Regions from separate parts of the Homo sapiens genome. Here all the other regions are reported to be linked to region 2. The links are microRNA targets in miRTarBase. Many come from high-throughput screens and were not tested one by one. Region 2 holds a microRNA gene; each other region holds the end of a gene's coding sequence.

Region 1 (4,068 bases), not on the chromosome of region 2:
TAGAAGGAGTCAGACCAAAGCTCTACTACGGTGATTTGTGTTAACATTTGTCTATTAATAGGTATGACTCAATAGATGAATGATTATATTTAACTTTTAGAAATTGATCATAATGGGGAAAATTCTAAACAATTAATAATTTTTAAATAATTTACATGATTTGGGGACCTAGTGAAAAATGCCTGCATACAAACTCATATTCACCCTTTTGTCCATAAACCTATTTCTTCCTGGATAAACAGTCTAGGGCCCAACTAATTGGTGTTGGGGAGGAGGTTCTGAATTATGCTAATCAGGACTTTACTTAGTAAGATTGGTAATTTTTCCTTTCCCCTATGTTCTTCTACCCTTAAAAACCAAACAGAAAACCCTTGGCGCAGATGATACCATGTTGGCAAAGGATCCCGCATCTGGCATCTGTACTCTTCTGTATGACAGTGCACCCAGTGGCAGGTTTGGCACCATGACCTACCTCTCCAAGGCAGCCGCCACCTACGTGCAGGAGTTCCTGCCCCACAGCATCTGTGCCATGCAATGAGGGCTTTGGTTCCTGGCTTCTGGGAGCCTTTTGACAGCTGGTCCCTGCCTCGGTTGATTGTGCATGGAACTAAAATGTTATTGCCTAATCACTCCAACCCTGCCCCTTTCTGTCCCATCCTTCCCAAGAAGAGAGAACTTTTTCGATAAACTAACTACTGTAGAAGAAGTGAACACTTACCTGGAGGCTCACCTTGCAGAACCAGTGACAATCTTATGAGTATAATGAACACTCAGCCAGGCCTGTCATGATTGGCTTTATTTCTTTCATCATTCATAAAAGTTTGCATGTGTTTTTATTCTCTAGATCTGTTACCAATATAGTTTTCTAACTCCTGTTTGGGGAGCAAGTGTTAATAATAACTTATTCCTAAAGCTTGGTTTTTCTTTTTTGTGATTTTATTGTGTATATGAGTGGTGGGTACTTTGGGACATTATTTCAAATGAGTAAACTCTAAATTGTTAAATATTTATGCTGCTATAAATTAGAATTACCTATTCTACGTGCCTTTTCTTAGGAAAAGAGAGTACTGGATCATGGTTTTCTTCCTTACTTACAGGTTGCTTCACACTGAGTGATAATTTAAAATTGTTTCTATGTAGAATCATTGTCTCTACTGTTGCCCTCTCTGTGTCTGCACACATAATGCCTCTCTCACTTTGGTGAAATATCAAAAAAATGCAAGTACAGCATGCATATTTAAGAATTTCTGAACTAACACTTGAAATCACATTTTATAAAGATTGTTGGTACTCAGAGTTGTATTTGCAGCAGAAAATGCAGAATAACCCAGAAATGGAGCCCGGAGCCCAATTCCAGAGAGGAAGGGAAAGAAGAGACGATGCCTGGACAATGTCTTATACATAGGGAACAGAGAGGGAATCAGAGGTGGCTTAGTTCCCTGAAGACAGCCTTATGCGCTTAATCCCTGCCTTTGAAAAATGGGCCAATACACAACACAGACAATAATTTGAAGCGTCTGTATTCAGCAAAGATAAATACAGCAGTCCAGTCTATAGGTGCTCTACTTAGCATTCTTTTCATGTGCTCCTGGTCTCTGTCTCACTCACCTACTTTCTACTACATCCAACTCAACTCCCTGACACCCTATCCCCCCATCTATTCTTAAACTCTTTCATATATATTTTCACTTCCTAATTCTAGTGTACATATCCCTGTATATCATGGTATCTGTGGGCATATGTCTGTTTCTTATAAAGACACATATTTGTGTGTGTATGTGTGTGTGTGTGTGTGTGTGTGTATAAGCATACATGGGAATTTTTCTGAATGTAAGCAGTTTTGATGTGTCTGTATATCAATCTGTATCTACATTTGATGGACTGAGTAAGAATGTTGCATGTGAGAGAAGGGATGTGACTGTGGACTCAGATTGACACACACAGATTGGTGGAAGAATAGCTTCAGTCCTCTTCCTTCATCCCATATGTAGGTAGCCTTGCTTGACAAATGTTTCTTCTAACTCTCCTTCTTCTGAATTGTGCAGAGACTCTGTTAACTTCCCTTTTTGCACTTAGATAACTTCCTACTTCAACCCCCTCCTTTATCTTGGATTTCTAAAGTTTTTCCCCAATATTGGGAATGGTGAGGGTGGGGATGAGAGACTCTCTGAACAATTCTTGCAGAACCAGTGACAATCTTATGAATATAATGAATAAGTAAGCATATAGTAGGGTGATAGAATACAGATAGTAGAAACAAAGAGAGGACAGCAAACCTTTTCAGCACTTCTCTCAGAGCAAATGGAAACACACAGTAAGTAGCTTTCTGACTACATTATTTTCTGGTCACTTTTAAAGAAAGTTTACAACCTGTTCTGAAACTATTTGTCTTTTCACTGGTTGTAAGTGTACCCCAATCTCAGGGAGTATATCTGTAGTGCCACAGGCAAAAGATCCACTCCTTCCCACACTCATTTGCCTGAACTTACTCGAAGGGCTGCATTTCTCTGAGTTTACGAAATTGTGTCATTATGGTCCCCATACAGTGGTATTTAACTTTTAAAGCAACTTTTAAGAAAACTCGACTTGTTTTTTGTTCATTTTAAGTGTGTGGTACTAAAAAGACATGTTAGACTTTTTTTAAAAAAGCACTTATGTTTTGAAAATAGAATAAATAATAAGAATTTCCAATTAAATCATGTCTGGTGCCAATGTGCAAAACTTCACATGTGTTTTTGTGATTGGAGTTTATTTCATGGCTTTATTCTACATACTCTGCTTAATTATACAGTACAGTCAAAGCTCATTCATTGGGTTGAAGTAGAATAATATTAATATATTAATACATATATAATATATTATACATTTCATAATATGTTAGATAATATATGTAAAGAAATGCAGTTTAATCATTCAAATACATACCCACTCAAACAAGGCTTACTAAATTCAAGCGGGCTTATTGACATCTGTAGGGAACATTTTCTTTTCTTTTCTTTTCTTTTCTTTTCTTTTCTTTTCTTTTCTTTTCTTTTCTTTTCTTTTCTTTTTTTTTTTTTTTAAGACGGAGTCTTGCTCTATCGCCCAGGCTGGAGTGCAGTGGGGTGATCTCGGCTCACTGCAACCGCTGCCTCCCGGATTCAAGCGATTCTCCTGTCTCAGCCTCCCGAGTAGCTGGGATTACAGGCATGCGCCACCACACCCAGCTAATTTTTTTTGTATTTCTAGTAGAGACGGGGTTTCACCATGTTGGCCAGTCTGGTCTCAAACTCCTGATCTCAGGTGATCCGCCTGCCTCAGCCTCCCAAAGTGCTGGGATTACACTCGTGAGCCACCGCGCCTGGCCTGTAGGGAACATTTTCTGATGAATGAGTAAAACATTTTTACTCAGCCTTTCAATTGTGTACAAATGGTGCTTCTTCCCTAATGAAGGGTATTTTAAAACAACTTGTTTTTCTAAATATTAAAAATATTTGGCAGAATCTTGTTTGTTTATACTATTCATTAGCCTTTTCTATAACAGGATTTATCCAGCAAGGATGAACATTGTCTCTACAGTTCCATCCTGGTTAATGAAATTTTACTACATTCTGGGAATCTTACACAACTGGTGGGGCAAAAGTTGTTCTTCACCACAGCTGGCAAAACCTCTGCCATTCCTTTTTCTACTTACCAAGTACCTAGTGTCTGCACTAATGCAGTGGAGATTATTTTCCACATGTAGTCTTCATTTCCTTTTTATTTATTTAATTTTAAAAAAATACAGCCATCAATTTTTATTCTTATATTTGGTAGACATTCATTTCCTTTTTAACTTGAGTAACCTCAGGTGTTGGTTTGTCCAGGGCAGCCCCCATTTATGCCTGTTTTACTGGCATAATTATCAATAGCACTGTGTCACTCTCAAAAAATGTCTCAGTTTGAAAGATATGGTCACCCTATATTTAGCAGATGTGTGATTTCTTTTAAGGCTAAGCCAAAAAACCAAGAACTTATTCTCAAACCACTAGTAGTACTTGTGCAGTAGTGGTATGGGGGTAAGGATGACAGTAGGGGGAAACTCCCTTC
Region 2 (4,069 bases):
GTTTGTCATAGATAGCTCTTATTATTTTGAGATACATCCCATCAATACCTAATTTATTGAGAGTTTTTAGCATGAAGCGTTGTTGAATTTTGTCAAAGGCCTTTTCTGCATCTATTGAGATAATCATGTGGTTTTTGTCTTTGGTTCTGTTTATACGCTGGATTACATTTATTGATTTGCGTATATTGAACCAGCCTTGCATCCCAGGGATGAAGCCCACTTGATCATGGTGGATAAGCTTTTTGATGTGCTGCTGGATTCGGGTTGCCAGTATTTTATTGAGGATTTTTGCATCAATGTTCATCAAGGATATTGGTCTAAAATTCTCTTTTTTGGTTGTGTCTCTGCCTGGCTTTGGTATCAGGATGATGCTGGCCTCATAAAATGAGTTAGGGAGGTTTCCCTCTTTTTCTATTGATTGGAATAGTTTCAGAAGGAATGGTACCAGTTCCTCCTTGTACCTCTGGTAGAATTCGGCTGTGAATCCATCTGGTCCGAAAATAGTTACATTTTACAAACGAATCTCTAACACATTTTGGTATCTTTTTTTATACTTTGAAAGGACTGTAGCAGGTGTGTGTGAGTGTGTGTGTGTGTGTGTGTGTGTTTATAGCCAGTATGTATATATGTAGCAAATACGTTCATGTGCCATTTAATAATGGAGATGCTTTCTGAGAAATGCATCATTAGGTGACTTCATTGTTGAGAGAACATCATAGAGTGCACATAACACAAACACATTGTGTAGCCTCCTAAACAACTAGGTTATGTCGTATAGCTTATTACTTCTAAGCTACAAACCTGCATAGCATGTTATTGTACTGAACACTGTAGGCAATTACAATGCAGTGGTATTTGTATATCTAAACATATCTAAACACAGAAAAGGTACAGCGAAATATGATATAAAAGATTAAAAAAAATTGCCACCCCTGTATAGGGCACTTTTCATGGAACTTGTGGGAGTAGAAGTTGCTCTGGGTGGATCTGTGAATGAGCAGTGAGCAAATGTGAAGGCCTAAGACGTTACTATGCATTACTGTAGGCTTTATAAACACTGTACACTTAGGTTACACTAAATTTGTTTTAAAAATTAAGTAATTGCACTAATGTCACAATGAGAACAATGCCACTAGAGTTTTTCAGCTCCACTATAATCTATGGAACCACCCTCATGTATGTGATTTGTTCTTGAGCAAAATGTCATCATGCAGCACCTGACTGTATATATATGTAGCAAGTATGTGTGTGCCTGTGTGCGCGTGTGTATATATAAATGTTACATTTACATACACCTGATATGTGCATGTGTAATTATATATGTAACAAGTATGTGTGTGCCTGTGTGCGTGTGTGTACATATACATGTTACATTTACATACACCTGATATGTGCATGTATACATATATAGGTAACAAGTATGTGTGTGCCTGTGTGCGTGTGTGTACATATACATGTTACATTTACATACACCTGATATGTGCATGTATACATATATAGGTAACAAGTATGTGTGTGCCTGTGTGCGTGTGTGTGTATGTGTATATATACATGCTACGTATGTATACACCTGATATGTGTATGTGTAAATACATATCCACACACATAGCAGGTGTATATATAGGTAGCCTGTGTGTGTGTGAGTGCATGTGTGTGTATGTGTAGCAGGGGTTTTGTGTTAGAACCAAGAGCTTGGAACTGGTACAATGAAAATATTTTGCCTGAAAGATATGCTTAGTAAAAGTCCCAAGTTTCACACATTTTTGAGGCTCAAAGTGAAGAACTCAAAGTGAATTATTAGGTAATCATATCTACTTCTTCCTAAACCCTTCATCTGATTGTGTGCTAAAATTTAATACTAACTGATCTTTCCATCTCCATAAAATTCTTTGAGATAACAAAATCCTACATTCCGGTTTCTGAAGGATGGTATTCTGCAAATGTGAAAGTTTCCCTTAACCTCCAAAAAATAATTGGGTTAATCCAGCTACCACAAGTGTGAAATTGAGAAGCTGCTTGCTAAGATTGAATTTAATATTGTCACATGTCATCTGAGAGCTGCTTGTCTGATCATGTTGCCACTGGACAAAGTAAGCCTTACTACAAAGGATAAAAGAATGATTATTTCAATATCCAGTCATAGTTCATCATCAAACTCTGAGTAAAATGGAGAAAAAAAGACGTTTTATCTTATATGACTCTATGCATTTCTCTGGGAAGTCATTTATCTGGTTGCTATCCAGGAGAGCAAAGATAATGGGAAAAATCTTCCACTATTCTCAACTATAATTTTAAATATCAAATTTTAATAAAATAGGTTTTGGTTATTTCTTTTAAAAGCCCTCAATATAAGAAAATGAAATGTTAGAAACTTATTTTATAAAATATATTTGTGAACCATAAAACCCCATATAAAATGGAAATTATTATCACCATTAACTACTGATGCTTCTAATCTTATTCTGTAATGGTTAAAAAATGACTAGAATTTAGAGTTACTGCCAATATATGGGGGGGGGAGGGATTTTATAAAAATAGCTTTATTCATTTGCATGTTAAGCAAGAGTGTGATTACTGATGGCCGTAAGAGTCACTTGCTGCTTTAAGCTCTGCTCTGCTGCTGACTCTACATGTGTAGCTTTGAGAGGTCCTTTAGCCCCTCCAGCTTTCCACATAGGCAGGATGTGGCTATTGTACTTGATGATATGCCAAACATGCTTCTGATTCCAACATTCGATGGTTCTGTGATATTTCTACCTTATTACAAAAGACATTCACTTTAAAAGTATAAACACCGTAGTAACTTTTTTTCTTTCATTGTTTTCAATAAAAGGGTAATGGAAGTAAACTGACAAGTTTAGGAGGCTTTCAGAGCATAAAGGAGAAAGGCTGGCAGCTCTTGAGAACCTCTTTGCTTTCAGCTGAGAGCAAGTAGAGAATGCTTGCTCTCTGGCCCTGAATGTCATAACATTATGTTCAGAATCATTGAAATGTCTGACAACACTGTTGATTAAAAATGAGAATCATTAGGCCATGTCTGCCGTTATAGGATGAAGGGTAGTTTGAACAGTATGGAAAAAAACTATCCCAAAAGGATGATTTGTCTTAGACAATATTACCAAAATTTCAAATTATACTATGTATAGTAATTTGCAGTAATTCACTTTTTTTTTATATTTAGCTTCATCTTAAAAGTTCTCCTTCATTGGTAATGCTTTGAAAAATGCTGGATTTAGAATTATGAAGAGACTATCAACTAATATTATGGATGATATTATTATTATTATTATTTTTTGAGACGGAGTACTCGCTCTTTCGCCCAGGCCGGACTGCAGTGGCGCTATCTCGGCTCACTGCAAGCTCCGCCCCCCGGGTTCTCGCCGTTCTCCTGCCTCAGCCTCCTGAGTAGCTGGGATTACAGGCGCCCGCCACCGCGCCCGGCTAATTTTTTGGATTTTTAGTAGAGATGGGGTTTCACCGTGTTAGTCAAGATATGGATAATATTATTTAGAAACCATTCTGTGTGCTACAAAAGTCCTTTGAGAATGATATGAGCTGGGCACGACGGCTCATGCTTGTAATCCCAGCTCTTTGGGAGGCCAAGGCGGGTGGATCACCTGAGGTCAGGAGATCAAGAGTAGCCTGGCCAAGATGGCGAAATCCCGTCTCTACTAAAAATACAAAAATTAGCTGGGTGTGGTGCAGGGGCCTGTAATCCCAGCTACTCAGGAGGCTGAAGCAGGAGAATCACTTGAACCCAGGAGGCGGAGGTTGCAGTAAGCCAAGATCATGCCACTGCCCTCCAGCCTGGACAACTCCATCTATTAAAAAAAAAAAAAGATAACCACTAAAATGGCTATTATTCATCTTTCAAAATCTGTAATACCTGGAAGTTCTGCATGACCTTTAGGAAAACTACATCCACAAAGCGTTCCTTCTAGTTTCCTAATAAGTTTTAGAAGAAATATTGCCATTCTGAGCTAAACTAGTTCTACTTCCTTAGGGCAAATTCCTACCATAACATGAAATAGACAAATATAATTACTCTAAAAAAAGTCCAGCCATAGCA
Region 3 (4,068 bases), not on the chromosome of region 2:
ATGATGCCATTACTGTGTTGATGGATGTATTGTCAAGGAAAAAGAAGAGAATTACACACTGTTTCCTTCAATTGTTAGATGGCACTGGATGTAGTGTTTTCAATGTTAATCCTGGTATCATGTTCTTTGCCATAAACTTGTTGACAAATTGGCAAATACTGACATGAAATATGCCAATATTTGAGCATCTAAAAATGTAGGTACTTTCCATACCACATCATATATTACAATTTGAAAATGTTTGTTTCATTTTTTATATAATTATTATACAGAACAGTTTTTCTATGATAGCATTATAAAAATTCCCAGAGAATACTGGCCCAGTAAGAAATGGAATGTTCACAACTCATAGTGTAGCTATATGAAAGAAATAGATCTAAACGACAGGTTGGTTTCCAAATTATATTTTCATACCTGGAAAATATCTACTTTATAAATAGCACAAAGTTATAGTTTTCAATGAATATGAAAAAGTTCTTGCATTAACATATTTTATGTATCTTTTATATTGACATTTGTGATTGCCACTAAAATGTGTATTTTCTAAATTTCATTGTGCTTTTACAAGATACTTTTTTCTTTGATGTCCATAACTGCTGAAAAGGCTCCCCTAAGGAGAATTTTAAGACTAAGTAAGGTTTTTAGTGAGCTTAAATTATACAATTCTGAGGCATTATTTAAGGTGCATACTGTATTTTTTGCTTGAAACCTGTCAGCATTTTATTTGTATGGCAATTAAATGACTCAGCCATTCATGTCTCATGCCAGTCTTTTTCAATTGTTATTTTTAACAAAGAAAATTATATATATATGTATATATATATTATATATATGTATATATGTATTATATATGTATATATATATAAACTTACAGCAAAAATGTTTAAAAATAGCAAATAGTTTGAGTATAGTTAAACCTAATAACTGTACTTTTGTTTCTATGCCTCTGAGACAAGATTACTAGACCCTTATTCAAAGTTTCTAAATATAGGAAATAGAACATTGGGCCATGCTAAAAAAATTGTTCAGATTTTCTTTTGAAAGAGAATAGTTATTTTTCCTCCTGACCTCTAATGAAGATGCTTTATTTGTCAAGGTGTTTTCCTTAGAAAATTGACCCAGTGTCAACTGTAAAGAAAACATAGAGGATCCTTGGATGATTGACCAACTTATCCAAACACAGGTTTAGTAAAGAGAGGATATAAAGATAAAATGTGAAATGACCTCTCTGAGTCACATTTGTTTTCATAATTTCCTAGCAAACATCCAACTTCACTGCTACCCTCAGCAATGTTTCTTGAAACATTTTTAAGACATTGATAGACACCAATAGCTGATCTTTAGAAAGCCATTCCCAGAAGAATATGTAAGGGGTTACAACTCATTTCAGGGAGTCTGCCTAGCTCTTGATATTACATGTCTTTGGCATACAATTGTGTACCTTTTATCATTGACAGTGAAGAAAATAATGCCATTTGTAACTTCTGAGATATACACACAATACTATCAACTAGCCGGTTAATAAAAGATAAGAAAAATAAAGAAAATAGAACATTTTTAGGTGTCTGGCAAGTATCCTCTAAATCAAGGTAAAGATAATAATTTAGTGGCAGTGTTCATATTTTCCTATGACTGTAAGATTTAGGTGCCTCACAAAATATTAATATTTAGCCTCTTATGAAAGGTTCGTTTTTCTTCTAACACTTTAGTAGCTGAATACAAAGAAAATACACAACAGCTGTTTATAAATGAAATAAAAAGTTTCCATTTTTTATCTGAGTTTCTCATTTATTTGCAGAGAACGAATAAAATAAAAATATCCTAGTGTTGTTTGCACCACAGCATACCAGTAAATCTTAAGGATTGTGTTTCAGTATGAAAAGGAAGAGCAGGAAGATTTCCTCATTCTGTCTTACCAGCAAAAGTCTAGCCTTCACACACACACACACACACACACACACACACACACACACACACACACACACACAGAGTCATCTATATGAACACGTACTTGAGTTTCTTAAACATATATGAAGCACCTTCCATTTCCCTTTATAATAAATCCCTTAGTTTTTGCTGTTCATTAAAAAACAAAAAGGAAGAGACAAGCTCAGGACATTCTGAAAACCAATGTCTTTAGGACACACTAAGGTGTCCTGAATTACTTTAACGGACACATTGTAAAGACACACTCTCCAATCCCTATTAGGAAAAGTTTAGTCAAGTTTGCTTACTATTTGGGTGCTTATACCAAAAAAGCATCATTTAGGACATTATTTAGGATAATATTATTTATGCAGGAATTGTACCACCTATTTCCAGATGGTATAACTTATTATCTGACAGGCATGTAGCAAATAGAACACAAAGCATAAATCTGTCAGGAGAAATCATACGAGAAAAAGAGCATTGTCTGGTTATCAGAATATCAGATCTCTCATTCTGGCCTTGCTAGGAAATAGATCTTTGATTCTAGAAAAGTCAACTAATTTCTATGGTTCTTACTTTTCTCCTTTATAATATACCCATTTAAATTCCAAAAAGGTATATGATAAATCACAATAATTTCAATCACATGGATTTTAATACAAAATGTATAAAATCAATTTCCAAAAATTTTCTGCATATACTGAAAATGTCTGTACGAATGAGCTAACTACTATAGGCCTTCCCTAATTTATTCTATTAAATGTGGGTACTCAATGTAACCTGAAAATATTGAGCTTAACTCTTCTTTTTTTTTTTCAAAAGGGAAACTTGAAAAAGACTGCTTCCCCCAGAAAATTTATCAACAATAGGTGCTCAATTAAATGTTTTTAAACAATGAACAATATCCCCTTTCATATAAATAATCAGGGGAGAGATATTTTTAAGTCTTTTTTTTCTTTTTCCATAGTGTCACCTACACAAAAAATTATGTAAAGACACCACTTCTATGAGGAGGTATTCATTGTAGATGTACAGAAGTCAACGGAAACTTAAGTTTACAGAAAAAATAAACCAGATTATCATTCCACCCAACTGTATATTCCCACAGATGCTTAATAAAAGCTATCTGATGATATAATGAATTATCAGTTCTTGAGGAAGTATATACAGTTGGTGACTATTTTTCAAAAATCATCATCCAACAAATTTTTTTCATTTAAAATCTTTCATATTACCCTTTCGACAATCAGTTGAAATTTTAAAACTAAGAACATTTAAAAATATAAATGAAAGTAGCATTAGCTATAGACTGATATTCAACTTCAGACGTTAAAATAAATACAAGTGTGTATTAAGAGTAAAATTATGTCAACAATGTATAAATGAAAACTGCCAATGTAATTAATGTTTCTTTTAACATATCCCATCCATTGCTTTCCCTCCAAAAGACAAAGGTAGCAAAAGACGAAGCAGGAAGAACTGCTTCAGAAACTGAACATACTGATTTAATTGGCTAAGAAGTCCAAATGCTAATACTCCTAATAATTAGCCATTCCTTTTGTGTTTTGGTGACATATATCCTCATACAATGTATATCAAATGGAATTTTTTGATTTACACCTGACATTTCAAAGTTTCCATTTTTGAATTCTCCTAGTCTTAAGTAAGTAGAACATTGTCTCCTTTGTTTGCTAGGCATAACGTTTTCCCCAACATCTAGGGCTCCATGATGCAAAATATCATTTTGCCGATCTTCTGTTCCAGTATTTACTTTAATTTTTTTTATTATAATTGGATTTTCAAATACAATCACAAAAACATCTCCTGTTGAAGGTGGTTTCCCCCAAAAGTACTCATCAACACTACTGTAAGCCTTGCTTGCTTCATAATTTTCAAACACATTCATGTTGGTGTACAGACTTGCAGGGGGGTTATCAGGAATGTCAAATGACTCCTCTTCAAAATCATCATCCTTCAGCTTATTCTCCGTCCCTTTGTATGATGAATAATAGCCCATGTGCTGAAAGAGAGATGGTTTAAAACGGATCACATTTTTCTGAGCCAACAGACCACGGAAATGAGTCAATAGCCAATCACAAGGCATTTCTTGATAAAACATTAATAAAAAATGGGCCAAAC

Evidence for each region. The annotated mature microRNA hsa-miR-4789-3p reads CACACAUAGCAGGUGUAUAUA and lies in region 2 at 1,601-1,621, shown strand. An mRNA with a match to its seed (bases 2 to 7 or 8) in the 3' UTR can be bound and repressed. Matches are read on the target gene's strand: a 7mer-m8 pairs with bases 2 to 8, a 7mer-A1 pairs with bases 2 to 7 and ends in A, and an 8mer does both.
Region 1: the mRNA of PHKA1 is a reported target of hsa-miR-4789-3p. Seed matches in the 3' UTR shown: 7mer-m8 at 1,776-1,782.
Region 3: miRTarBase lists MGAT4C as a target of hsa-miR-4789-3p. The part of its 3' UTR that is shown has no 7-base or 8-base seed match.

Annotation. Positions count from the first base shown.
Region 1 is chrX:72,577,472-72,581,539 of GRCh38, reverse strand. It overlaps PHKA1 (phosphorylase kinase regulatory subunit alpha 1), which reads left to right. Exons shown (of 32, transcript NM_002637.4): 32 at 365-2,726. The coding sequence ends at 538. Among named protein-coding and RNA genes, the nearest start is that of HDAC8, 6.7 kb to the right of the region's middle.
Region 2 is chr3:175,367,990-175,372,058 of GRCh38, forward strand. MIR4789 (microRNA 4789) reads left to right here and starts at 1,551; the gene lies at 1,551-1,632. The region is part of intron 5 of NAALADL2 (N-acetylated alpha-linked acidic dipeptidase like 2); the gene reads left to right.
Region 3 is chr12:85,975,847-85,979,914 of GRCh38, forward strand. It overlaps MGAT4C (MGAT4 family member C), which reads right to left. Exons shown (of 5, transcript NM_001351288.2): 5 at 1-4,068. The coding sequence ends at 3,443. Among named protein-coding and RNA genes, the nearest start is that of NTS, 100 kb to the left of the region's middle.